Linked DNA regions of Homo sapiens: region 1 is linked to region 2. Evidence: fine-mapped expression QTL. A gene starts in region 2. The other region holds a variant in brackets. All regions are shown on one strand. Distances are between the middles of the regions.

Region 1 (14,970 bases), 38 kb after region 2:
AAAGTCCGGCGGGTAGTATTTCTGCAGGGGAGGAAGGAAACGTTGGGGGAGTTATTTTCAGAAGCAGGGGCAGGACATGGCAGAGGGAAGGGGCTCTGGGGAGCTGTGTCGGGGGTCCCCAAGCCCACCCCAGGTTCCGCGACAGGCAGGGAGGACTCGCAGGACTCAGTACAGTCAGAGGGAGGCCAGGCACAAGCTTCCTGACTCTCTCCTAGTGGAGTTATACAGGACGCATTTAATTCTCCTAAATACCAGTCATGACAATACACATGAAATGCTGTCTACACGGGAAGCTCTAAAAAGCCAGGGTTTGTTTTTGTTTTTGTTCTGAGACGGAGTTTTGCTCTTGTTGCCCAGGCTGGAGTCCAGTGGCGCGATCTTGGCTCACTGCAACCTCCGCCTCCTGGGTTCAAGCGATTCTCCTGCCTCAGCCTCTACAGTAGCTGGGATTACAGGCGCCCACCACCACTCCCCGCTAATTTTTGTATTTTTAGTAGAGATGGGGTTTCACCATGTTGGCCAGGCTAGTCTCGAACTCCTGACCTCAGGTGATCCACCTGCCTTGGCCTCCCAAAGAGCTGGTATTACACACGTGAGCCATCATGCCCTGCCCTTTGTAGAGGTTAAGCTTTGCTTAGCACTTCTGTTGTTCAGGCAGGAGACCGAGTTCCCCGAGGAGTCCCAACTCCCCAGCAATTCTGTAGAGGGTAAACCAGGACTCTGTTAGCTCAGCCTCCCAATCACGATACTACATCCGTTTCCTACAGAGTCATCTCCCTGGATCTGAATCCTGAGGAGCTGAAACCTGCAGGGCTCAGTTTACTCCTCTGTGAAATGCGCACACTGTCCTCTGTCTCCAAGAGTCTTTGCACGCATTCCTTGAGGCAAGGGGGATAAAGTGCTCTTTGCAGTGTCTGGCACCCAGTAGGTGCTCCAAACACAAAGTGCTTTATTTTCCAGTGGTGCAGTGGAGGTATCTGTCATAATCCATACTCACACTCCCTTTGTATCCCAGGGCTCCTGTTTCCCAGGAGTTCCTACAGCAAGCCTGAGACTGCTCTCCTAGAAAGACCTGCGTGGGGCCGGGCGCGGTGGCTCACGCCTGTAATTCCAGCACTTTGGGAGTATGAGGTGGGTGGAATGCCTGAGATCAAGAGTTCAAAACCACCCTGGGCAACATGGTGAAATCTCATCTCTACTAAAATACAAAAAAAATTAACCAGGCATGGTGGCGGGCGCCTGCAGTCCCAGCTACTCAGGAGGCTGAGGCAGGAGAATCGCTTGAACCCAGGAGGCAGAAGCTGCAGTGAGCCAAGAACGTGCCACTGCACTCCAGCCTGGGAAGCAAGCGCAAAACTCCATCTCAAAAAACCAAAAAACAGAAGTGTGCCAACAGTATAGTTTATACTGAACCTCTGCTTTTCTTCTGGGAGTCTGGAATCTTGGCCACTGTCAGGCAGAGGTTATCTGCATGACCAGACCCCAGTAAAATCTTGGCCACTGTAAGGCAGAGGTTATCTGCATGACCAGACCCCAGTAAAAAAAACAAAACACACACACACACACACACACACACACACACACACACACACACACACACACACACACACACACACACACACACACACACACACACACACACACACACACACACACACACACACACGCGCCACCCCACCCCACCCCACCCAAAGTACACGATTGGTTACAGTCCCCAAGTGGGGCGGGGCTTCTCAGAGCCACGCCCCTCAAGAAGAGGGCAAAACACGGCCGCCAGCATTTAAGGAAGCCCCGCCCCCAGAAAAAAAACCCTATCTGGTGGTGATTGGGTAAAAGCCCAAGCCACGCCCCGCAGGTGACTAACTACACCCCAGCCCAGAAGGGAGACTTAGCGAAGGCCCACCCCCCCGACGGAAGGCGATGGGGAGGAGTCTAGGGAGGAGTCTGGGAAGCCCCATCTCGCGGAAGGCCGCTGGGAAAGAAGGGTTCCAAAGAAGAGATCTCAGGAAGCTCCTCCCTCTCCCGGAGTTCCGGGATGTCCTGCTCCGATTGAAAAGCCCCAGTCGCCCAACACTTACGTTTAATACTTTTCGCTCCGACATCTTTGCCTTCTGATCACCTCGCAAGCACCTGAGAAATGGTTAGGCTGGGTAATTATCGAGCTTTTCCGACGGAAGCCTTACTTCCGCAAACGTCACTTCCTTCGGCCGCTATTATTGGCTGCAGCATACACAGCAGACCTCTTTCATTGGTTCCAATCCCCGCCTATCAAGCTGGAAGTCCCAGCGTCTTCCCTCCGGAGTTGCAACCTGAGTAGCGCGAAATAAGGATTCCGGGAGCCATGTGGAATTGGAGAATTTTGTATAGTGCGCTGCGCCCCCTAGAAGCGGGCAGCGGCTCGTTAAAATTTTGTAACGTGACCTCTTGTTCTTCATTCTTTTATTCAGCAAATATGTATTATGCGCCTGCCTTGTATTCTGGGCTCTGGGAATCCACACATCGTTCCTGGGCCCGCAACTCTCACATGGGGTTGGGGCCACACATAGGGTGACTTAAGAGGACCCTGGACGACTCTTGAGTCACAGACATTGACTTAAAGATCAGGCTCCAAACCAACTTCCTAAACATACGCAGTGTCTCCCAAATGTCCCTCCATTGCCCACCTGTGCCTTCCCCTTAACGAGGACTTCCCATCCCATTCCTTCCCCAGCCTCCTTCCCCAGCCTCCTCCCCACCTTTCATGGACGTTTCCTCTGTGTCAGATTGTTCCAGGAAAGGGGTCCGGATCCAGACCCCAGGAGAGGGTTCTTGGATCTCGTGCAAGAAGGAATTCAGGGCGAGTCCACAGTGCAAAGCAAAAACAAGTTTATTTAGAAAGTAGATGAATAAAAGAATGGCTACTTCACAGACAAAGCAGCCCCAAGGGCTGGTGGTTGCCCATGTTTATGGTGATTTATTGATGATATGCTAAACAAGGGGTGGATTATTCATACCTCCCTTTTTTAGACCATATAGGGTAACTTCTTGATGTTGCTGTGGCAATTGTTTGTTTATTTATTTATCTTTTGAGGAGTCTTGCTCTGTTGCCCAGGCTGACGGGCAGTGGTGCGATCTTGGCTCACTGCAACCTCTGCCTCCAGTGGTGCGATCTTGGCTCACTGCAACCTCCACCTCAGGATTCAAGTGATTCTCCTGTCTCAACCTCCCGAGTAGCTGGGATTACAGGCACGCACCACCACACCTGCCTAATTTTTGTAGTTTTAGTAGAGATGGGGTTTCACCATTTTGGCCAGGCAGGTCTCGAACTCCTGACCTCAGGTGATCTGCTCGCCTCTGCCTCCCAAAGTGCTGGGATTACAGGCATGAGCCACTGCACCTGGCCAAAAATCAACTCCATCTTAAAATTAACAAGGCACATTCGCTGCCAGTCACGAGCCAGGGTCATAAGATGTTTACAATTGAGAAAACGTCTTACAAATGCCTAGGAGGACACACTACTACAACAATGGAAGGTCCAGATGTCCTGATATTGCATAGCAATGTATGCTTTTAAGATCGTTATAGTCGCCAGGCGCGGTGGCTCATGCCTGTAATCCCAGCACTTTGGGAGGCCAAGGAGGGTGGATCACCTGAGGTCAGGAGTTCGAGACCAGCCTGGTCACCATGGCCACCATGGTGGAACCCCATCTCTACTAAAAATACAAAAATTAGCCGGGCGTGGTGGCGGGAACCTGTAATCCCAGCTACTTGGGAGGCTGAGGCAGGAGAATTGCATGAACCCAGGAGGCTGAGGTTGCAGTGAACTGAGATCGAGATTGTGCCGCTGCCCTGTGGCCTGGGCGACAGAGTGAGACTCCATCTCAAAAAAAAAAAAAAAGAGAAAAAAAAGAAAAAGATACCGGGCATGGTGGCTTACGCCTGTAATCCCAGCACTTTGGGAGGCCGACGTGGGCGAATCACCTGAGGTCAGGAGTTCAAGACCAATCAGACCAACACGGAGAAACCCCGTCTCTACTAAAAATGCAAAATTAGCCAGGTGCGGTGGTGCAGGTCGAGAGTTCAAGACCAACCAGACCAACATGAAGAAATCTTGTCTCTACTAAAAATACAAAATTAGCCGGGCATGGTGGTGCATGCCTGTAATCCCAGCTGCTTGGGAGGCTGAGGCAGGAGAATCACTTGAACCTGGGAGGCAGAGGTTGCGGTGAGTCGATATGGCGCCATTGCACTCCAGCCTGGGTGACAAGAGTGAAACTCCATCTCAAAAAAAAAAAAAGAAAATATGGTTATAGTCATGGTGTAATGTACTTAGGCACTAAAATGGCAAGGATATGTATGTATACTTTTTGAGACAGGGTCTCGCTCTGTCACCTAGGCTGGAGTGCAGTAACGCAATCATGGCTCTCTGTGGCCTCCACTTCCCGGCTCAGGCGATCCCCCACCTCAGCCTTCCGAGTTAGCTGGAACTATAGGTACCACCACACCTGGCTAATATTTGGCAGTTTTTGTAGAGACAGGGTTTCGCCATGTTGCCCAAGCTGGTCTGGAAATCCTGGGCTGAAGTGATCTGCCGGCCTCGGCCTACCAAAGTGTTACAATTACAGGTGTGAGCCACTGCACCCAGCCAGGATAACTTTCTTTAAGTCGACAAAGTACTACGTTTTGTCACGCGGTCAGCCCACCTACACGTGGACATAGCTTTCACACAGATAAGACCCCTATATAAGAAAAAACCGGTTGTACATGGTGGCTCACACCTGTAATCCCAACACTTTGGGAGGCCGAGGTGGGAGGATCACTTGAGCTCAGGAGTTCAAGGCCAGCCTGGCCAACACGGTAAAACCTCGTCTCTACTAAAAATATAAAAATTAGCTGGGCGCAGTGGTACATGCCTGAATCCCAACTACTCAGGAGACTGAAGCAGGAGAATCGCTTGAACCTGGCAGGTGGAGGTTGCAGTGAGCCAAGATCGTGCCAAGATCGTGCCATTGTACCTGGGTGACAGAGCAAGACTCCATCTCAAAAATAAATCAATAAATAAAATAAAAATAAAAACCTTAAAACAAAGACAAGGCGTTCCTCCTCTTGTTTTCTGAGGACGCCCTACTTTGTAACTGAGTAGCCTTCCTTTTTTTTTTTTTTTTTTTTTTTTTTTGAGGAGTTTTGCTCTTGTTGCCCGGGCTGGAGTGCAATGGTACAATCTCGGCTCACCGCAACCTCCGTCTCCCAGGTTCAAGCTATTCTCCTACCTCAGCCTCCCAAGTAGCTGGGATTAAAAGCATGTGCCACCACGTCCGGCTAATTTTGTATTTTTAGTAGAGACGGGGTTTCTCCATGTTGGTCAGGCTGGTCTTGAACTCCTGAGGTGTTCAAGAGGTGATCCACCCACCTCAGCCTCCCAAAGTGCTGGGATTACAGGTGTGAGCCACCACACCCAGCTAGGGACCCCTTTTCCTGGCACCAGGAAGACAATAATATGGGACAAGGAATGGTGTTAAATAAAGTTTACAGGAAGCCATGGGTTTGGACTGAGCTCCTGCACTAGGCCCAAAAGACTAAACCAAAATGAAGTCCCTCATGCGGAAGTTTTACACCAAGCTGAAACTAAGTTGTTTTTCTGGTTTTCCAAGAAATCGAGAACTGGAAGGAAGTGGGGAGAGAGAGAGAGAGAGGGAGAGAGAGAAAGAGAGGGAATAGTCAAATCCATGAACAGAGGCAGGCAGATCACCTGAGCTCGGGAGTTCAAGACCAGCCTGGCCAACATGGCGAAACCCCGTTTCCACTAAAATACAAAAAATTAGCGGGGTGCGGTGGTGGGTGCCTGTAATCCCAGCTACTTGGGAGGCTGACTCACGAGAATTGCTTGAACCTGGGAGGCGGAGATTGCAGTGAGCCCAGATCATGCCACTGCACTCCAGCCTAGGCAACAGAACCAGATTCTGTCTCAAAAAAAAAAAAAAAAAGGCCAGGCACTGTGGCTCATGCCTGTAATCCCTGCACTTTGGGAGGCGGGTGGATAACGAGGTCAGGAGATTGAGACCATCCTGGCCAACATGGTGAAACCCTGTCTCTACTAAAAATACAAAGATTAGCTGGGCAGGGTGGCACACGCCTGTAGTCCCAGCTACTTGGGAGGCTGAGGCAGGAGAATCGCTTGAACCCGGGAGGTGGAGGCTGCAGTGAGCCAAGATTGTGCCACTACACTCCAGCCTGGGTGACAGAGCGAGACTGTCTCAAAAAAAAAAAAAAAAAAAAATCCCTGAACAGGCCTGTTTTAGCCAGCACGATAGTCTCCTTTGCTCTAAACTTGACAAGAAAAGTAACTTTGAAAAGACCAATCCACTTTTTGTTTTCTATTTCTGCTTTACTCAGCCTTTTTCTGTCTATAAAACCAACCTCTTTTTCAGTGAGCTGAGATCACCACTGCACTCCAGCCTGGGCAACAAGAGTGAAACTCCGTCTCAAAATAAATAAATAAAACCTGCTTTGCAAAAGTGGAAGGTTTGGCCGGGCATGGTGCCTCATTCCTGTAATCCCAGCACTTTGGGAGGCTGAGGCGGGTTGATCATGAGGTCAGGAGTTCAAGACCAGCCTGGCCAACATGGGGAAACCCCATCTCTACTAAAAATACAAAAATTAGCCGGGTGTGATGATGGGCACCTGTAGTCCCAGCTACTTGGGAGGCAGAGGCAAGAGAATCATTTGAATCCAGGAGGCGGAGGTTACAGTCAGCCAAGACCACGCCACTGCCCCCCAGCCTGGGTGACAGAGAGAGACTCTGTCTCGGGAAAAAAAAAAAATGGAAGGTTTAACAGACTTTAAAAAAGAAAGAAAAAGAACCCCTAATGTTGTCTGCTCAGCTCATGGAAACATTCTGAAACTGGTCCAATTGTTCCATAAAACGAATACTTATGATTATTTGAATAAACACAGAAATGGATCCTCCCTAGTCTTAAAACTTGAAACTTACATTTGTCTCATCTCAGTTCCTTCCTCAGGAAACTGACCATCAGGCAAGGAACTGAAACTCATCAGATCATCACATCCAGACAATGAGAGGCCAGACCCCATCATCCATCAAGATTACTTCCTTAACACCCTCCCTGAATTTGTTTTCTCCCATTCCCCAGCTATATAAACTCCCCAATTTTAGTTGGTCAGGGAGACATATGAGACTTTACCACCCCTTCTCATTGACTGCAGCGGCAGGATAAAGCATTCCTCCCTGGCAATCCTTGTTGCCTCGGTGATTGGCTTTCTGCGCAGAGGGCAGCAAGACCTAGACCAAACACCTGGTGTTTTAGTAGCTAATTCGATTTGATGAAATGAGGTGTTGCCTGATTCCAGAATTGCAAAGAAAACCCAATTCAGATCTCTGAACTATATAGGTTGCAGCATTTTTGTTTTGTTTTGTTTTGAGATGCAGTCTTACTGTGTTGCTCAGGCTAGAGTGCAGTGACGCGATCTCAGCTCACCACAGCCTCCACCTCCCGAGTTCAAGTGACTCTCCTGCCTCAGCCTCCCAAGTCACTGGGGCCACAGGCGTGTGCCACGCCCAGCTAATTTTTGTATTTTTAGTAGAGACGGGGTTTCACCATGTTGGCCAGGCTGGTCTGGAACTCCTGAGCTCAAGTGATTCACCTGCCTCAGCTTCTCAAAGTGCTGGGATTACAGGCATGAGCCTCTGCACCTGGCCAAGGTTGCAGCTTTATCTTTTGACCATGGATAGTGATGGAAAGGGTCAATTGTAGGTGATGCTTGAGGGGCCTATGGCTGTTGTAACAATTGACCACCAACTCAGTGTCTGAAAACAACATGCATTTGTTTTATTTATTTATATTTTTTTCTGAGACACGTCTTGCTTTTTCACCTAGGGTGGAGTGCGGTTCTATGATCATAGTCACTGCAGCCTCAAGCTCCCAGACTCAGAGATCCTCCCACCTCAGCCTCCCAAGTGGCTGGGACTAAAAGTGCATGCCACCATGCCCAGCTAAATTTTAAATTTTTTTTTGAGAGACAGGGTCTTGATATGTTGCCATGGCTGGTCTAGTACTCCTGGGGTCAAGTGATCCTCCCACCTTAGCCTCCCAAAATGTTGGGATTATAGACATGAGCCACTGCCTCTGCCCGACACACATTTATTATAGTTTTACAGGTCAGAAATAAAAAATGGACTGAGCATGGTGGCTCATCAGCCCTGTAATTCCAGTACTTTGGGAGGCCAAGGTGAGAGGATTGCTTGAGACTAGGAGTTGGAATCTAGTCTGAGGAACATGGTGAGACCCCATCCCTATTAATCTTTTTTTTTTGAGACGGGGTCTCACTGTCTCACCCAGGCTGGAGTGCAGTGGCACAATCATAGCTTATTGAAGCCTCAACCTCCTGGGCTCAGGCAATCCTCCTGCCTCAGCCTCCAGAGTAGCTGGGACCACAGGCATGTACCACCATGCCTGCCTAACTTTTGTATTTTTTGTAGAGATGGGGTCTCACTATGTTGCCCAGGCTGGTCTCAAACTCCTGAGCTCAAGCAATTCAGCCGCCTCAGCCTCACAAAGTGCTGGGATTACAAGCGTAAGCCACTGTGCCTGGCATCTATTAAATTTTTTAGAAATACTTGTTTTTTCTTTTTTTTTTTTTGAGAAGGAGTCTCACTGTCTCCCAGGCTGGAGTGCAGTGGCACGATCTAAGGCTCACTGCAAGCTCCGCCTCCCAGGTTCACGCCATTCTCCTGCCTCAGCCTCCCAAGTAGCGGGCACTACAGGCGCCTGCCTCCATGCCCAGCTAATTTTTTTAATTGTATTTTTAGTAGAGACAGGGTTTCACCGTGTTCACCAGGATGGTCTTGATCTCCTGACCTCGTGATCTGCCCGCCTCAGCCTCCCAAAGTGCTGGATTACAGGCGTGAGCCACCGTGCCTGGCTTTTTTTTTTTTTTTTTTTTTGAAATGGAGTCTTTCTCTGTTACCCAGGCTGGAGTGCAGAGATGTGATCACAGCTCACTGTAGCCTCTTCCTCCTGGACTCAAGAGATTCTGCCACTTTGGCCTCCCAAGTAGCTGGAACTATAGCTGTGAGCCACCAAGCCCAGCTAATTTTTAATTTTTTTTTTTTTTGAGACGGAGTCTCGCTCTGTTGCCAGGCTGGGGTGCAGTGGTACGATCTCGGCTCACTGCAACCTCCCCCTCCCAGGTTCAAGCGATTCCCCTGCCTCAGCCTCCCGATTAGCTAGGACTACAGGCATATGCCACCATGTCTGGCTAATATTTTTTTGTATTTTAGTAGAGACAGGGTTTCACCATATTGGCCAGGCTGGTCTCGAACTCCTGACCTTGTGATCTGCCCACCTGGGCCTCCCAAAGTACTGGGATTACAGGCGTGAGCCACTGAGCCCGGCTAATTTTTTTTTTTTTGAGACAGGGTCTTGCTCTGTTGCCCAGGCTGGAGTACAGTGGTGAGATCATAGCTCACTGCAGCCTTGATCTCCTGGGCTCAAGAGATCCTCCCACCTCAGTCTCCTGATTAGCTGGGACTATGGGCACGCGACATCACACCTGGCTAACTTATTTTATTATTTTATTTTTATTTTATTTTATTTTATTACTATTTTTTTTTTTGAGACAGTCTCGCTCTGTTGCCCAGGCTGAAGTGCAGTGGTACGATCTCGGCTCACTGCAACCTCCGCCTCCCGGGTTCAAGTGATTCTTCTGCCTCAGCCTCCCGAGTAGCTGGAGCTACAGGTGTGTGCCACAACGCCTGGCTAACTTTTGCATTTTTTAGTGGAGACAGGGTTTCACCATATTGGTCAGGCTGGTCTCGAACTCCCCACCTCGTGATCCACCCACCTCGGCCTCTCAAAGTGCTGGAATTACAGGCATGAGCCACCATGCCTGGCCTATTTTATTTTTTTAGAGATGGGGGTCTCACTATGTTGCCCAGGTTGGTCTGGAGCTCTTGGCCTCAAGCAATTCTCCTGCCTTGGCCTCACAAAGTGTTGGGATTACAGGCGTGAGCCACTGCGCCCGGCCCATTTTCATTAATTTGATGAAAGATCTTTCATCTTTAAAGACCTTTGAGATTATTAATGTAATCACTCCTATAAAGTTCCTTTGGCTGCATCAGGCAAAATACTCATGAGCTCTGGAGATTGGGACATGGATGTCTTTGCGGGATTGGGGAGTGTTACTCTACCTGCCACAGATGGGGTAGTCAGGGAAGGCTTCTCGGAGGAGGTGACTTTTGACTGGAGACCCAGGTGGAACCCACAGACAAGCCCAAGGCTGTTTCTCTCTCCTTCAGGGCCTGGCTGCCTTCCTTGCCCACTGTTCAGTTAAATCTCCCCAGAGCCACTCATACCTTATTGGTGTCTATCCTCAATGAGGCTGACATCTGGG[C/T]GAACCAACCTAACTGCTAATCTGAATGGATTCTTAATGGATTCTTTTTTTTTTTTTTTTTTCCGAGATCGAGTCTCGCTCTGTCACCCAGGCTGGAATGCAGTGGCGCGATCTTGGCTCACTGCAACCTCCACCTCCTGGGTTCAAGCAATTCTTCTGCCTCAGCCTCCCGAGTAGCTGGGACTACAGGCGGATACCCACGCCTGGCTAATTTTTTGTATTATTATTTTTAGTAGAGATGGGGTTTCACCATCTTAGCCAGGCTGGTCTTGAACTCCTGACCTTGTGATCCACCCGCCTCAGCCTCTCAAAGTGCTGGGATTACAGACGTGAGCCACCGCACCTGCCCCTGAATGGATTCTACTGTCCCACTCCAGGCGGAATCCCTGCCACCCCACCCTGGCATCCCCAGGCCCATGACGTCCCCTGGTCCAGCCCTGACACTATGGGAGTGGGGATTTGTGGTTTCTGTGTCCTTTGGTTTAGGGCTAAGTCCTCGCTGGATCTCCTCTAAGTGAAAAGAGGAGTCTTCATTTCCTTATTTTTTTCAGACGGAGTCTTAGTCACCCCATCGCCCAGGCTGGAGTGCGATGGCGCGATCTCAGTTCACTGCAACCTCTGCCTCCCGGGTTCAAGCAATTCTCCTGCCTCAGCCTCCCGAGTAGCTGGAATTATAGGCACCCACCACCACGCCTGGCTAATTTTTGTATTTTCAGTCGAGACAGGGTTTCACCATGTTGGCCAGGCTGGTCTTGAACTCCTGACCTCAAGTGATCCACCTGCCTTGGCCTCCCAAAGTGCTGAGATTACAGGCGTGAGCCACCATACCCAGCTGGAGTCTTCATTTCAACTATTATTTTTTTTGTTTTTGTTTTGAGACGGAGTCTTGCTCTGTTGCCCAGGCTGGAGTGCAGTGGTGCAATCTCAGCTCACTGCAACCTCCGCCTCCCAGGTTCAAGCGATTCTCCTGCCTTAGCCTCCTGAGTAGCTGGGGTTACGGGCTCAGGCCACCATGCCCAGCTAATTTCTGTATTTTTAGTAGAGACCGGGTTTCACCATGTTGGTCAGGCTGGTCTCGAACTCCTGACCTCGTGATCTGCCCGCCTCGGCGTCGGGATTACAGGCGCGAGCCACCGCACCCGGCCTCAACTATGATTAAAACAAACAAACAAACAAACAAAAAAACCAGGGTCTTGCTCTGTTGCCCAGGCATGAAGGCAGTGGTGTGACGACAGCTCACTGCAGCCTTAACCTCCTGGACTCAAGTGATCCTCCCACCTCAGCCTCCCAAGTAGTTGGGACTGTGGGCGCGCAACATCACACCTGGCTAATTTATTTTATATTTATATTAATTTTTTAGAGATGGGGTCTTGCTGTGTGGCCCGGACTGGTTTCGAGCTCCTGGCCTCAAGCTACCCTCCCACGTCGGCTTCCCAGTGACTGGGATTACAGGTGCGATCCACTGCGCCCAGCCCAACAACAATTCTTTTCTAATTAAACAATAAAAAATATCTCACAGTGACAGTTCAGTCAGCCCTGCACTGTGGTAAAGGTAAAGGTAAAGGAGAGAGTAGTACATCTCCATTTCTCAGCTAGAGAAACTGAGGCTCAAAGGGAAAAGTCGGTCATCTGAGGTTGCCCGGCAGCTCAGCAGCAGCAAAGCAAGGACTCCAGCCCAGGCTAGGCAGATCCCATCCGCCCTCCAACAGGTGTCCCGGGGCTTAGGGTGGCGAGGACCCAGGTGCTGTCTGGAGGCAGCGGGAAGCCCTTGCTACTTGCCCAGGCTCATTGTGGCAGTGGCGGGGAGACTCCAGTCACTCAGTTCCCCGTAGTCTGTGAGGTCCTGAGCCGCCACTTGGACGTAGTACCTGGCTCGGGGCCGCACAGCCCTGAGGATGAAGGACGTGGCTTCAATGGGCCCCACCTGAGAGAAGAGAGAGCGTCAGGTCACTAGAACCAGAAGATGGAGAGGGGCCACTGTGCACAGAACCACACAACGGAGCGTGCAGTCCTCCCTGCCCCCTGCAGGCTCCAGTCCAGGACTCTGGCCCCAGCTGTGCGGCCCCACCCCAAATAGCATCATGGGCTCCTCCCAATCCCGGCCTCTGTCTGTGTGGCCCCCAGAGCCACCTCTCTTACGAATCCTTCCTGGACCACACTAGCCCCTGTGGATGTCTCACCCAGGAGGGTCTTTGTTCATCAGGACATCCCTGATCCCTATAATCCTCTTCTTTCTCCTCCCTGGGACTAAACCAGGACCTCTGGGATAGGACCCCATACCTCCCTTTACCCCTGGTCCCACTATATTAACCATGCTTTTTTTTTTTTTTTTTTTTTTTTTGAGACAGTCTTACTCTGTTGCCCAGGCTGGAGTGCAGTGGGGCAATCTTGGCTTACTGCAACCTCTGCCTCCAGGCTCAAACCATCCTCTCACGTCAGCCTCCCAGATAGCTGGGATTACAGGCGCCCGCCACCATGCCTGGCTAATTTTTGTTTGTTTGTTTTTGAGACGGAGTCTCACTCTGTCACCCAGGCTGGAGTGCAGTGGCATGATCTCAGCTCACTGCAACCTCCACCTCCCGGGTTCAAGCCATTCTCCTGCCTCAGCCTCCTGAGTAGCTGGGATTACAGGCGCCCGCCACCACACCCGGCTAATTTTTGTATTTTTAGTAGAGCTGTGATTTCACCATGTTGGTCAGGCTGTTCTCGAATTCCTGACCTCGTGATCTGCCTGCCTCAGCCTCCCAAAGTGCTGGGATTACAGGCATGAGCCACCGCGCCAGGCCAATTTTTGTATTTTTAATAGAGATGGGGTTTCACCTGACCTCAAGTGATCTGCCTGCCTTGGCCTCCTAAAGTGCTGGGATTTCAGGCATGAGCCACTGCACCTAGCCTAACCGTGCTTTTTATTTTATTTAATTTATTTAAGTTGGGAGACAGAGTCTCTCTCTGTTACCCAGGCTGGAAGGCAGTGGTGCCAACACGGCTCACTGCAGCCTCAATCTTCCAGGCCCAAGTGATCCTCCCACCTCAGCCTCTTGTAACTGGGGGTACAGGTGTGTGTCACCACACCCAACTAATGTTTAAATTTTTTGTAGAGATGGGAGTCTCACTATGTTACCCAGGCTGGTCTCCAACTCCTGGACTCAAGCAATCCTCCCAACTTGGCCTCTCAAAGTGCTGGGATTACAGGTGTGAGCCACCCTGCCCAGCCAGAATTGTTCACTTTAAAATGGCTAATTCTGGCCAGATGAAGTCCTCACACCTGTAGTCCCAACACTTTGGGAGGCCCAGGCAGGTGGATCACCTAAGCTCCGTAGTTTGAGACCAGCCTGGGCAACATGGCAAAATCCCATCTCTACTGAAAATACAGAAATTAGCCGGGCGTGGTGGGCGCCTGTAGTCCCAGCTATTCAGGAGGCTGAGGCAGGAGAATCACTTGAACCTGGGAGGCGGAGGTTTCAGCGAGCCAAGATCGCGCCACTGCACTCCAGCCTGGGTGACAGAGCTAGACCTTGTTTCAATCAATCAATCAATAAAGTGAACAATTCGGTGGCTCACGCCTGTAATCCCAGCACTTTGGGAGTCCGAGGCAGGCAGATCACCTGAGATCAGAAGTTCGAGACCAGCCTGGCCAACATGATGAAACCCCATCTCTACTAAAAATACAAAAATTAGCCGGGCATAGTGGCACGTGCCCGTAATCCCAGCTACTCCAGAGGCTGAGGCAGGAGCATCGCTTGAACCTGGGAGGCGGAGTTTGCAGTGAGCCGAGATTGTGTCACTGCCTGGGCGACAGAGCGAGACTCTGTCTCAAAACAATAACAACAAAAACGGGTGTGCGACAGCTTGTGCAAGTCCCTGCTTTCCATCCTTTTCGGTAGAGGCCTAGGAATCAGATTGCTGGACTGCTCTTATTCAATGCACCCGGAATCGCAAGCTATGTGCAAGAGCCCAGCACACCTGCTAGTCTTGGTAAAAACCATTCCCTCTGCCAGGCACCACCCTTTCCAGCCTCCCCCTCATCCTCCTCACCCGGTGGAAGCGCGCAGCTCCCTGACGCTTGTAACGGATCCAGTACTTCAGTGAGAAGATCTCTGGGAAGGGCCAGGACCCGGGAGGCTCCCACTGCACCTGTAGCTGGCGCTCAGCGAGGGGGCTTAGGCGCACGCCTTCTGGAGGGTCGGGCTTGACTGACGGACAAGCAGGAAGCAGGGTCAGGGGACAGTAAGTCCAGTCATTCATTCATTCACTCATTCATTCAACCAACATATTATGTATATATTTTGTTTGTTTTGAAACGGAGTCTCACTCTGTCACCCAGGCTGGAGTACAGCGGCGTGATCTCAGCTCACTACAACCTCTGCCTCCCAGGTTCAGGCGATTCTCCTGCCTCAGCCTCCCGAGTAGTTGTGAGCCACCATGCCTGGCTCAACCAACAAATATTTATTGAGAAACTGTGTGCCTGGGGCTGCCACAGAGGGGACAAAACAGTGACCTTAACTGACCTACCCCTGTCCTCATGGAACTCACAATCCATCAGGGGGAAGACAGGAAATAAACAAATCCATAGGTCACACA
Region 2 (8,000 bases):
GCCGAGATCACGCCACTGCACTCCAGCCTGGGCGACAGAGTGAGACTCCGCCTGGAAGAAAAACGAAAGAAAAATAAAATAAAATAAAATAAAATAAAGAAATGCTGCCCCTGCCACCCCCACATCCTATTCTAAAAGCAAGCCATATTCCTCTCCCCACACCACACTGAGCAGGATAAGTAGGTTCCATTCCACTCTAAAAAGTGTTTGCGTTTCCAAGGAAGATGCAGGTTGTCTTGGAAGAAAGAATTTAGGACTATCAGTCATTCACACTCTAGTGAGAATTAACAAACTACAAAAGTGACAAGTAATTGGACTCTACTTTGTAAACTGAAACAGGAGACATGACCAGATGAGGAAATGCAGGGATGGGGCATTCAGATGTCAGAGTGTGGGTCTGAGAAGCACCTGCAAACGCCCTGGAGATGTGGTCTTTCTTCCACTCCCAGGGCTGATCATACTCATCTGCTGGCCGTTCATCTTCCTGGGGCATCCGGCTCTGCCGAGGCTTCTGCCCAGAAGGGGGTCCATCTGCTGTCTCTGGGTCCTGTTCCTCATAAGGGGTGTCATAGAGCTGCACCCCTCTGCCGGGAAGTTCTAGGAGGCCAGGGACACTGTTCAGCTCCTGCTCCCATCTGGGACCCTGTCACCTTCCCCCAAGCCGTGCCTACTCACCACTCATGACCCATTGGGCATCGTAGGGCTCCATGTACCCATCATCCGGGGGTGCAGGATGAGGCTGAGCATCAAAGGGGTCTAAATACTCAGTGTCGGCTTCCAGCTGCGGAGAGAAGGAAGGGGAGAAGACAAGGACTCAGAGGGGCTTCCCTGCTAATTGACGCTGCACCTCTTGCCTGCCCACAGGGCCATCTGACACCTCTCCAAGAGTTTTTATTTTTTTATTATTTATTTATTTATTTTTATTTTTATTTTTTGAGATGGAGTCTCGCTCTGTCACCCAGGCTGGAGTGCAGTGGCGGGATCTGGGCTCACTGCAAGCTCTGCCTCCTGGGTTCACGTCATTCTCCTGCCTCAGCCTCCCGAGTAGCTGGGACTACAGGCGCCCGCCACCATGCCTGGCTAACTTTTTGTAGAGATGGGGTTTCACCGTGTTAGCCGGGATGGTCTCGATCTCCTGACCTCGTGATCTGCCCGCCTCGGGCTCCCAACGTGCTGGGATTACAGGCGTGAGCAACCGCGCCCAGCTGAGTTTTATTTATTTATTTATTTTGAGATGGAGTCTTGCTCCGTTGCCCAGGCTACAGTGCAGTGGTGTGATCTCGGCTCACTGCAACCTCCGACTCCCGGGATCAAGCAATTCTCCTGCCTCAGTCTCTGGAGTAGCTGGAATTACTGGTGCCGGCCACCAAACCTGGCTAATTTTTGCATTTTTAGTAGAGACAGGGTTTCACCATGTTGGCCAGGCTGGTCTTCAACTCCTGACCTCAGATGATCCGCCCGCTTCAGCCTCTCAAAGTGCTGGGATTACAGGCATGAGCCACAGTGCCTGGCCTCTCCAAGAGTTCTTTTTGGGGGTTGGAGAGGGAGTCTGTTACCCAAAAGTGCTCGCAGACAGCGGCTGGCTTCCCACGTCTCCCTCTGTCTTGATCCCATTTCCCCAGCACAGACACCTGCCTCCCTCCTTCGCCCACTTCAGTGCTTCTCCGTGCACTATTGTCAAGGATTTACCTGTGTTGATTTGTAATACCAACATGTAATAAGTACACCATTCCCCTTTTCCAGACAAGGAAGCCAAGGCACAGAGACAGTAAGTGTTTTGCTTAGGGACACACAGCTGGTAAGTAAGAGGCCGAGTCTGATCCCGGCTGACTGGTTTCCTCGAGTCCCTGGCTCTTCTTACCAACGTCTTACTTCTTATTTATTTATTTATTGAGACAGAGTCTCGCTCTTGTCACCCAGGCTGGAGTGCAGTGGCGCGATGTTGGCTCACTGCAACCTCCACCTCCTGGGTTCAAGCAATTCTCCTGCCTCAGCCTCAGGAGTAGCTGGGATTATAGGCGCACGCCACATCGCCTGGTTAATTTTTGCATTTTTGGTAGAGATGGGGTTTCACTGTGTTGGCCAGGCTGGTCTGGAACTCCTGACCTCAGGTGATCCACCTGCCTTGGCCTCCCAAAGTGCTGGGATTACAGGTGTGAACCACCACACCCAGCCTTTTTTTTTTTTTTTTTTTTTTTTTTTGAGACAGGGTGTTGCTCTGTCACCCAGGTTGGAGTGCAGTGGCGCAATCATGACTCACTGCAGCTTTGACCTTCTAGGCTCAAGTGATCCTCCTGCCTCAGCCTCCTGAGTAGCTGGGACTATGGTGTGCACCACCACAACTAGCTAATGTTTTGATTTTTTTTTTGTAGAGACAAGGTCTCACTCTGTTAGCCCGGGCTGGTCTCGAACTCCTGGGCTCAAGCAATCCTCCCACCTCGACCTCCCAAAGTGCTGGAATTACAGGCATGAGCTACTGCACCCGGTGGCCTGGGTTCAAATCCTAGTAAGCTAGAACCCCGTGAGACCTTAGCCAAGTCACTACCGTTCTGCGAGCCTCAGTTTCGCTTCTGTAAAACGGGAACATAGTGGTAGGAAGGGCAGCATCACCGGGAGGATATTTAGGTGCCCAGCAGGGGAGCAACTCACTCAGATCTATTTTAGGAAGATCCCACCAGGTTCCAAGAGGAAGGGGTGCTGAGGGGAGGGGGCTGGGGGACTGCAGGGGATGACCATGGAGGAGGAGGAGGACCCGGAGACCAAGCAGGGTGGTCAGAGAGGCAGAAGGACAACCAGCATTATGCATTGAAAAGGGACAGATATCCACCGGGCGCAGTGACTCACACCTGTAATCCCAGCACTTCGGGAGGCAGAGGCGGGAGGATCACCTGAGGTCAGGAGTTTGAGTCCAGCCTGGCTAACATGGTGAAACCAGTCTCTACTGAAAATACAAAAATTAGCCGGGTGTGGTGGCACACACCTGTAATCTCAGCTACTGGAGAGGCTGAGGCAGGAGAATCGCTTGAACCCCAGGAGGTGGAGGTTGCAATGAGCCGAGATCCCACCACTGCACTCCAGCCTGGGTGACAGGGGGAGACTGTCTCAAAATAAATAAATACATAAAAAGAACAGACTTCCCCAAGCAGGTGGAGGTCTGGAGGACTGGGAAGGGTCTGTCTGGTGCCCCAGTCCCCTCCTGTGATCACACATAAAATAAGCTCTCCACGATCCAGAGAGCCCATCCTGAGCCTCCCCTCCACCCAGTCTCCCCAGGCCACCCAGCCACGCACCTCCTCCCCGGGGCCGCCCAGAAGGGCCTTGGCTCTGGCCATATCCGCAGCCTCCACCTTGATGAGCCGGTGCTTGGGAGAACCATACTTGGCATCTCCGGGGTTCTTGGAGTCCCCAGGGCCCGCGGGGTCCGGCTCCAAGCGGCTCTCCGCGTCCTCATAGGGGTCCTCGAAGTCCAGGTTCTTCTGCGCGCGGTAGGCCCTCAGGATGTCGCTCTCGGTGTAGTCCGGGGTGGGCGGCTGCGGAGGGGGCCTCCGACCCCCAAAGCTCAGGTAGTCCCGTAGCCACTTGGCCATTTGGGCGCCTGTCACCCCAATCGGGCCACTGTCAGAGGGGCCCCCACATGCCCTTCTCCGGGCCCCTTTCCCCAAGGAGGAGGAGGAGGTGGAGAGGAAGGGAAGAGCAGGGAAGGATGAGAAAGATCAGGTGCGCCCTTTGGCGGGGCTCTGGATGGATAGAGGGAAGGAAAAGGTGAACGAGGGGGAGGAAAAGGAGGCGACAGAGGAGGGAGGAAGAGAAGCCCGCCTTAGCCCAGCTTGGGAAGCACCGCGGGGGAAGGGGGGACCTCGCAGGGCCCCGAACCCCGCGCGCTGGGGGCTAGGGCGAGGGGCATCCGCGGAGGCGCGCGGAGTTTCCGCGGGCAGCGCGGTTCCCTGGAGCGACACGGCCGCCCGCCGCCTCCAGGAAGCTCCGGGATCCCTTCCTGGGGTCGGGAGATCCGGGCCAGCGCCACCTGCGGACGCTCCCGGCCCCTCTCCCAGCCCGGACGCCTGGGTTCTCAGCGCAGCGGGCGGGCTCCCCAGGGGCGCGGGCGCCGCGCGCAAAGTTGGGCCGCGGAGACTGTGACCCCGGCGGGACGCATCCTTTGTCGCGCTCCTCTCGGCTCAGCGGGGAGCCCCCAGTCCCGCGGCCCCCGCCGCCTCGATCCGGCCCCAGCCACCCGCACAAAGGGAAATAAAAACCTCCTCCAATCCCCCTTCACGCTTTCGGAGAGACTTTCCCCGCCGCCGCCGGGAGGTGGGACGCTGGGGAGGGGGGCGCGCAGGAGGACGCCCCTGTTCCCACCAGCCCCGGGCCGCGTCCCGGGCAGCAGCGTCAAGGCTCCCCCACCTCCCCTCCGCCGCGTCCCCCGCCCCTCCCCTCCCCCTGCGCTCCCCTCGGAGGTGACTGAGACCTTCAGCTGTTCTGGGGAGGGAGGGAGCCGCTGCCCGCGGAGGGAAGGGGGGCTGGGGGCGGGAGTCGCCGGGGCCGAGGCCGCGGCAGCTGGACACTGACCGGGACGCCCGAGACTGGCCGCAGCGAGCGCGGAGCGCGGGAGGTGGGGAGCAGCTGGGAGTGACACTGCTGGGGAGGGGAGGGGAGAGGGAGAAGGAGGGGAGGGGGAAATTGCCCGGGAAATGGGGGACTGCACTTGACCGCCAAAAGGGGTGAAATTGACCAGCAGAGGGGGTGGGAATGACCGCCAGTGAGGGTCGAAATGGAACCGATGTCTGGCGGTGAAACGGACCGGGAGAGTGGGGATGTGCAAATTGGTGGAGAGGTCACTGGCTGAAATTGATATTGGAGCAGCAGAAGGAAGAGGGGGGCAAAGGAAGGGTGGGTGCGGATCGGGCTTCCCCTCCCCCAAGAGGGCTCTGCTCTGTGCCCCGCTCCCGCCCCAGAGGACTAATTGCGGGCAGGGGGAGGGTTGGGGGCAGCTGGCTTGGGGAAGGGAGATGGTATCTGTGCCTGGCGCCTGTCCTCTGCATCTGTCCTTTTGTGGCTTCTGGGGGCGGGGTGGGGGGGAGCGGTGGCGGGAAGAGGGGCAGAAGTGAGAGGGGTCTGGCCTGAACTGGCTGCCTGTTGTCAGCTGTCGTTGTCTGAGGGTGAGGGCACTGAGAGGTTTGGGGGGTGGGAGAGGAAAAGGGAGCCACTGGCCAATTTTCCAGTGCAGAACCGTTTTTTTTCTTTCCCCATAAGGGGGCTTGCCCAGTTCCTCCTAATGAGGGGAGTGAGAGAGGGGTGGTCAGGAAGGATGGGACCCCAGATTCTCTCCTCTTGTGGCCAGCCCCCTGGTCAGGCACAGGTCATAGCTTGGAGAGCACAGTTGGAGGACAAGACAGAAGTCAGAACCAACACTGCTATGACTGGGGCCTCCTGGCAGCCCGGCGGGGCTGAGGGCAGGGTCTGTCACTCCCTGAGTCTTGGTTTTCCTTATTTGAAAGATGTGGTTTCTAACAGGAAATCCCAGACAGCTCTAGGAAGGATTCCAGGAGGGACCGAGCTATCACCTGGCTTCCTCATTTTATGGATGGGGAAACCGAGGCACAGAGATGGGAGGGACTTGTTCAGAGCCACTCCACAGCTGATTCTGCCTGCACATCGCCGTGGGGCCTGGCCTAGGGTGGCACTGGAGTCTCTCTTTTTATTTTTTTGAGACGGAGCCTTGCTCTGTCCTCCAGGCTGGAGTGCCGTGTTGCGATCTCAGCTCACTGAAACCTCCACCTCCCAGGTCCAACCAATTCTCCTGCCTCAGCCTCCTGAGTAGCTGGGATTACTGCCACCACGCCCAGCTAATTTTTATATAATTTTATATTTTTAGTAGAGATGGGGTTTCACCACATTGGCCAGGCTGGTCTGGAACTCCTGACCTCAGGTGATCTGCCGGCCTCGGCCTCCCAAAATGCTCTTCATGGAATCGGTTCTGCAACTCCTCTCCACGATGAGCTCCATTATCCAGATGGGAAAACTGAGGCCTGGAGCCAACAAGGCAAAGCCCCTGAAGGATGCAGGCGTCTAGACCCTTCTGTTCCTCCCCTTCCCTGCACTGGCTGTGTCCCCCAACACAGACCTGTTGAACTCCTTCCTCCCTCCTGAAGTGCATGGCCACCCCCGCTTCCCCCCACCCTTTCAGATCAGCGACAAGGCTGCGTCCCTGGGGGCGGCCAGGGAGCACAGCGGGTAATTGTCCTGCTTTCTGTCAGCCGCAAGGCAATTCCGGGCCACGGGGATGAGCTGTTGACAGATCTCATCAAATCCAAGTCGTCTCCCTGCCGGATAAAACTAGATGTCTGAGGTATAAATATTTGAAAGGGGCCTTCTAATTACAATCTGTGTCAGGAATAGCAATTAGAGGCCCCGGGGCCGGAATCAAACGGCATTTGACTTTCCTGTGCTTTGGAGCTGGCTTCTCCTGGGGCTGCACCCCGACCCTACCCCAAGGAGGGGAGTGGGGAGAGGCTGGCAGGGAGAGGCAGGAGGATTAGGTAGAAGAGAAAGAGATCCAGGCTAGGGGTCCAGTCACCTTCCCCTGTGACCTTGAATCAGCCACGTAACCTTGTGAGATTTGGATTTTTCTTTTCTCCCTTTTTTTTTTTTTTTTGAGACAGGGTCTCTCGCTCTGTTGCCCAGGCTGGAGATGCAATCACAGCTCACTGCAGCCTCACATTCAACATCCTGGGCTCAAATGATCCTCCCATCTCAGCCTCCTGGTAGCTAGGACCACAGGTGCATACCACAAAACCCGGCTTTTTTTTTGCTTTTTTTTTTTTCTTACGCAGAGTCTCACTTTGTTGCCCGGGCCTGGAGTGCAGTGGTGCGATCTCGGCTCACTGCAAGCTCCGCCTCCCGGGTTCACACCATTCTCCTGCCTCAGCCTCCCGAGTAGCTGGGACTACAGGCACCCGCCACCATGCCCGGCTACTTTTTTGTATTTTTAGTAGAGATGGGGTTTCACTGTTAGCCAGGATGGTCTCGATCTCCTGACCTTGTGATCCTCCCGCCTCAGCCTCCCAAAGTGCTGGGATTACAGGCGTGAGCCACCGAGTCCGGCCGCTTTTTTTTTTTGAGGCCGAGTCTTGCTCTGTCGCCCAGGCTAAAGTGCAGTGGCACAATTTCGGCTCACCGCAAGCTCCGCCTCCCAGGTTCAAGCGATTCTCCTGCCGCAGCCTCCCAAGTAACTGGGATTACAGACGCCCGCCACCACACCCAGCTAATTTTTATATTTTTAGTAGAGATGGTGTTCCACCATGTTGGCCAGGGTGCTCTCAAACTCCTGACCTCGTGATCCGCCCACCTTGGCGCCCCCAAAGTGCTGAGATTACAGGAGTGAGCTGCCATACACGGCCTTGTTGCTTTTTTTTTTTTTAAAGATACAATTCACATTGGCTGGGTGCAGTGACTCACACCTATAATCCCAGCACTTTGGGAGGCTGAGGTGGGCAGATGACCTGAGGTCAGGAGCTCGAGACCAGCCTGGCCAACATGGTAAAACCCCGTCTCTACTAAAAATACAAAAATTAGCCAGGCGTGGTGGCGGGCACCTGTAATCCCAGCTACTCGGGAGGCTGAGGCAGGAGAATCACCTGAACTCGGGAGGCAGAGGTTGCAGTGAGCCAAGATTGAGCCACTGCACTCCAGCCTGGGCAACAGAGCGAGACTCCATCTCAAAAAAACAAAAAACATAACTTACATATCCTACAGTTCACCCATTTAGAGTGTACAATTCAGTGGTTTCTCCTGTGTCCACAAGGTTGTGCGACCATCACCCCTAATTCCTGAACATTTTCGTCACCTCCAAAAGAAACCTCATACCCAATTAGCTGTCACTCCCCATCTCTCCAAATCCCCAGCTCCTGGTAAACACAAATCCACTTCCTGCCTCTGTGGATGGGCCTGTCCTGGACATTTCATAGAAATGGGATCACACACTTTGTGGCCTTCTGTGTCTG

What was found.
Region 1: its variant is fine-mapped to the expression of SHD in whole blood (TOPMed, PIP above 0.99).

The regions. Positions count from the first base shown.
Region 1 is chr19:4,234,279-4,249,248 of GRCh38, reverse strand. It overlaps EBI3 (Epstein-Barr virus induced 3), which reads right to left. Exons shown (of 5, transcript NM_005755.3): 4 at 14,425-14,582; 5 at 11,721-12,313. The coding sequence ends at 12,161. It overlaps YJU2 (YJU2 splicing factor homolog), which reads right to left and starts at 2,169. Exons shown (of 8, transcript NM_018074.6): 1 at 2,079-2,169; 2 at 1-21. The coding sequence starts at 2,102. RefSeq lists enhancers at 2,010-2,099, 2,440-2,579, 2,338-3,109, 6,473-6,572, 6,723-6,772 and a silencer at 6,951-7,151. The variant C/T (reference allele first, on the strand shown) is at 10,390.
Region 2 is chr19:4,275,651-4,283,650 of GRCh38, reverse strand. SHD (Src homology 2 domain containing transforming protein D) reads right to left here and starts at 4,385. Exons shown (of 6, transcript NM_020209.4): 1 at 3,291-4,385; 2 at 676-781; 3 at 409-597. The coding sequence starts at 3,587.